Linked DNA regions of Homo sapiens: region 2 is linked to region 1. The links come from fine-mapping of genetic effects on gene expression. Tissue or cell type: nasal epithelium. Region 1 holds a variant in brackets; the other region holds the start of a gene. All regions are shown on one strand. Distances are between the middles of the regions.

Region 1 (2,500 bases):
CTTATCTGAAGTTCTATTCAGACTAAACACATCAATGTCCAGTAAGACTGCCTATCTCAACAGGGGCCACAGAAAAGTAATTACCAGTACAGTTTTTGAAGGTACCCTATCATCGTGACTAAAGTGCTATTTCTGTGAGACATTACAACTAAAAAATGCTTGGACTGATCAAATTTTGGAGAAAGTTCACTTTCACAAATGCTATGTTCACTACTCAGATATACAGCAATGTTTTAAAAAGAAAATAAAGCAAACCATAAACTATAAATAATACTTAGAAAGAGGCTTTGATTTCAAGTCTTTTCAGGGGCTCTAATAGGAATACAACCATATAATAGATTCCAATTCACATTAATAATTATTAATGTACCATTAAACTGACCCAAATAGATGGAAGGAATAATAACTACTCAAGTATAAAATTGTCTTTATGAGTTTTAAGTAATATTATGCAGAACTAAAGTCATTTTTGGTTATGAAATCAATGGTCAATCTTCAGCTCACGTAAAAGTACTGTGATAAAATGCCTAGCAGTAGAAGGCTGAAATAAAATTGTATCCTGAAAGCTTATCTTTTATGTTAAAATGTAAAATATGATTTATAAAGGAGCCCGGTTCAGATACCAATGTGGGTGCAGGTTCTAGGTAGCAGTCTCTCAGTTTTAAACCACTAGGATACCACAGCAACGTCCTTCCAATTAGGAGTGGCTATAGCAGCAGCAGGAGCAGCAGCTGGCCTAGATAAAAGTGCAATTAAACAGATAAGCAAATGGGGATCTGCTTCAGTTAAATATTAGGGCAGCTGAGGCTTGCATTCTCACTAAAGGAAAAGATGCATTATACCAAAGTCGTTTGCTCCAACAGTATTTCCCTTCCAATGTTACTTTGTTTAAACTGAGAGGATGCAAAGCAAGCTATACTGGTCAATGTCAGAGTAAGAAGTGGAGACCAAAGGGGCTTAGTCATGTAGTGTAGTGGGGGGAAAAGCAAATGTCCATAAAGATTGCTGTCTGGGATTAGACCTTCGCGGTGGTGTACTGTGAGAAGGAAACGACACCCTAAAATTACATTAGCTTTGCAGT[G/T]ACTCGTTCAGAGAAGCTTGCATAGTGGAGTTCATACCTATTCATTATTAACGTTGGAAAGTTTTGGCATGCACTTCAGAGCTCCTGTATGTGTTGATCATTGAGGTTGCCATAGTGAATGTGAAGAAGTCAACTCAAGTTCAGGGAAAAGGAGAGTGGAACTGCCTGCCCTTTATATCCATGCACATCCTCAAATGTTAAGACATAAACTAATCATCCAACATTCAAATTTGTTTCCAAGTTGCATAGTTTGTCTTATTAACAAAATAAACTTAACACATCTTTTTTTCATACTTCAAATGCACTTGAGTTAATAATCTGTCATAATCACATATTAATACAAATGAGGTGCTTCATTCAGAAATGCACTGCATTTTTGTCAAGTAATTATCATTTCCAGGGTGAATGAAGACTAGATTAATATAAGGGATATAGAGCATGAAATATAGAAGGTTTTCCAACCCAAGGAAGACAACATCCAAAAAGGGCTAACTTGAACAAAAAGAAGTGTTAAGAGATACTTCAAATGCTTAATAATATTTAGCCACATCCTATAACATCATTAAAAATTATATTCTGGTTGAAATAGTCCTATTATGGGAAAAAGCAACAACAACATGATATTAAGTGCCACTCCTCTGAACTTGGTACTAAGGGGTGGACACAAAAGATGAGAAACATATTCCGAACAGCAAAGGAGCATATAATCTAACAGGGGTAGAGACAGACACCAAATAGTCCATGTGTTTCATTACATTGCCCAGCTTCCCTTGCAGTTAGGTTGAAGCCATGTGACTAGTTTCAGCCAATGGACTTGATGAAAAATGGCACTGCTTACTTCCAGGCTATGGGTCTGTAAGTCAGCAACCCTAGAACCCATGTGTCAAGCTGGCAAAGTCACAAGATCAAACTGATCTGGGTTCCCTGATTAGAAGGGAGCTACTCTGAAGGGCCACTGAACTCACAGTAAACAGTGCATGTGTGAGAAATAAACTTTTATATCTTAAAGCCAATGGGACCTGGGGGTTTGTTAGTTACCACAGAACAGCCTAACCTTGGCAAATGCATAAAGCCTACATAGAAATAATTAGAGAACAATTTAATTCAGGCTACCATTGGATGGTCAAGGTACGGTTAATGATTGGCAAAGAGTTTGGACAGAAAGCAATGAAAGGGTGGTCCTTGGAACTGTTCGGAGAAAAGGGAGCATGTTTCAGGCAGAGGAAATAGTAAGAGCCAAGTGAGAACTCTAACAATTGGATCGACTGGATCAGGCAGTAGATTTTTTCAGAAAGGGAGGCATTTTTGTCATCAAGCATTCTGTGAATTGCTTCATTTTCTTGCTACTTATTAATCTAACCCAGGTGTCTCCTCTCAAAGGCCTAACAATCGATGCTTAGGCCATGAGCCTTTCCTTGC
Region 2 (2,616 bases), 270 kb after region 1:
AACGCCCTTCACTTCCTCGAGTCCTCATGTATGTCATGGTTCCTCTTTTAGGAAAACATGAGTACAAGACGCAAAGCAAAAGAAGAGACTAAAGGCAAATTACCCCATCACCTCGTTTCGTCCCTCCCCTTCGTTATTATAGAAGAGCTTGATCAAATTCCCTTTGTCGCGCCACACACACGCAGAGTAGGTGAAGGGCACCCTAAGACAACTTATTTCTTTCCCGCCTCACAGAAAGCCTTTACGAAATCCTCACACCATCTCCGGACGCAAAGCTTTCGCATTCAGCTTGAGGAGCTAAACCATTTCAAGCCAAGGTAGGAAACGCCAAAGTGGTGCCGAAGTGGTCCCAAAGCAGAAGGCTGGGAAGCAGGGCAAGCTCAGCGCACCTAGACGTTTGCATTTACACAAAGAAATTAGCCGCATGATTAATGGGAGCTGCCGGCTGGAGGCGGGGCGCCCGTGCCGGCCTCCTCACCTGGGACATCTGCGGCCTCAGGTTGATCTCCTTCAGGTTGATGGAGTGCGCCCGGAGGTTGTTAAGCAGCTGGCAGAGCAGGACTCCATCGCGGAGGGTCTGCGCAAGGTCGAACACCTGAGCCGAGTCCCAGGTCACCCGGTGGTTGGTGGGCAGCACCTTGCAATGGATGAGCCACTGCGCGCACTGCTTCCACGGCTCCATGCCCGACGGCTCCGGGACGCGGCTGGGCCGGGGCGGGCGGCAAGGATGCGGCCGCCGCCGCCGCCGCCGCGGTTCCTCCGCGCCCCGCCGACGCCAACAGCCGCCGGCCCTTTCCCCGCGCGGGATCGAGGGAGCAGGAGCCGCGGCTGACGGGTCGCGGGCGCCGCGCTAGGCTCGGCTCCGGTCCCGGCCCGGGTGCGCCGCGACCCGGCCGCCGCTGCAGCGAGTCCCGCGCGCTCTCCGTGCGCCCCGGCCGGCTCGGCGGCGGCTGCCGCGCACAGGCTTCCGACTCCAGCGCCCGGCCCGCCACTGAGCATGCCCAGCACGCCGGCCGGTCTCGCTGCGGTCCGCAAGTCCCCAGACGCGCGGGTGGGAGCGCGCCGGCGGCCGGGGCTGGGGTCTGTGGCCGAGGGCGGGGCGCGGGGGAGGGGCCGGCGGAGGGGGGCGGCGGCCAGAAAGGGGATCCCGCGCCCCCGCCTGCAGCCTTGCGGGGCTCACGCAGCCCCCGGCGTCCTGGGGTCTTCTCTCGGGGCGGCTTCCCGGCTTTGCGGGGAGTGTGGCTGAATACTGTAATACGATGGGGTCCCCCAGGACCCCCTAAACAACAAATGCTCAAAGGAGCGACGGATTAATTGGGGCACCCAGACTCCCCAGAGCAATGAAAAAAGTGCCTAGAGCATCAGTAGAGCACGGCGCTGAAAGTTTTAGAGATCGTCGCCCCCTCGCCCCTTGCAGCTCTATCCCCTCCATTCTCTATAGCTGATTCCTCAGCCTATTCCTCCTAGTTGCCCCTAGTGGTGTTTTGGCACCCTCAAAGTGAGTGAGAGTGCGTGTGTGGAGACGCCTGCGGAAACCGCCCCGATCCCTGAGCCTATTTCCTCGCGAGGTGATTTTCACTTGGAGCTGGTTTGCCCCTGCACTGTCAGGCTCGGAACTGTTTGCCGTTGCTGTTCTGGCCCTTTTGCTGACCCCACAAAAACCTGCTTGAGAAAGGCCTGTGCCACGGTGCTAGACTGCGCATGCGTCGGCGACTGGCGGCCGGGTTTGAGAGCAAAGCGCGTTAGCCCTGGGCAGCTCCTGCCGGGCTGTTCTGGGATCCTTAGTGAAAGTTGGAACTTGACCCCAGAACTTTTGCGCAGTGCACAAGCAGTGCATTCGTGTTTCTTAAGTAAATCTTTTGGAGACTCTAAACCCTACCCCTTTTACTCCCACTGCACACTGCCCCTCAAAACCACAATTAATGTTTAAATTATTTGTGGCAAGATATTGCCACAGTGAATTATTGCTGTTCGATAGGAATGTGGTCCTTCGTCACCCTTTTGAGATGCATTCACTTAAAATTAGAAAATAGGCCGGGCGCGGTGGCTCACGCCTGTAATCCCAGCACTTTGGGAGGCCGAGGCGGGCGGATCACGAGGTCAGGAGATCGAGACCATCCTGGCTAACACGGTGAAAACCCGTCTCTACTAAAAATACAAAAAATTGGCCGGGCGTGGTGGCACGCACCTGTAGTCCCAGCTGCTCGGGAGGCTGAGGTAGGAGAATCGCTTGAACCCATGAGGCGGAGGTTGCGGTGAGCTGAGATCCAGCCACTGCACTCCAGCCTGGACGACAGAGCCAGACTCTGTCTCAAAAAACAAACAAACAAACAAACAAAAAGATGGGAGTTTGGATAATTTAATTGTATTATATTTCTGTAGCCCAAATTTTTTATTACGAACCATGCTTTATAAGCAGGCCAAAATATTATTTTTAAAAGAATGATCTGTTCAGGATAGTGATTGCGTCCTTTTTCGTTTGGCTGTGACAAGGATAGCACACTGTTTACACTCAGCGCTGAACAATAAATCAGCCTGAGGATTTCCTTTCCTCACACGCATCCTTCCCTAGCAATTTCCTCTTGTGTTCAATGCGGATTCCATCAATAGCACGAC

The links. PIP is the estimated chance that this variant, and not a neighbour inherited with it, causes the effect.
Region 2: it holds the start of VAV3, and the variant in region 1 is fine-mapped to the expression of VAV3 in nasal epithelium (TOPMed, PIP above 0.99).

Annotation. Positions count from the first base shown.
Region 1 is chr1:107,692,016-107,694,515 of GRCh38, forward strand. All of the region lies in intron 17 of VAV3 (vav guanine nucleotide exchange factor 3), which reads right to left. Among named protein-coding and RNA genes, the nearest start is that of MIR7852, 200 kb to the right of the region's middle. The variant G/T (reference allele first, on the strand shown) is at 1,082.
Region 2 is chr1:107,964,188-107,966,803 of GRCh38, forward strand. It overlaps VAV3 (vav guanine nucleotide exchange factor 3), which reads right to left and starts at 993. Exons shown (of 27, transcript NM_006113.5): 1 at 479-993. The coding sequence starts at 682. It overlaps VAV3-AS1 (VAV3 antisense RNA 1), which reads left to right and starts at 256. Exons shown (of 3, transcript NR_046653.1): 1 at 256-317. RefSeq lists enhancers at 4-133, 1,480-1,774, 1,710-1,779.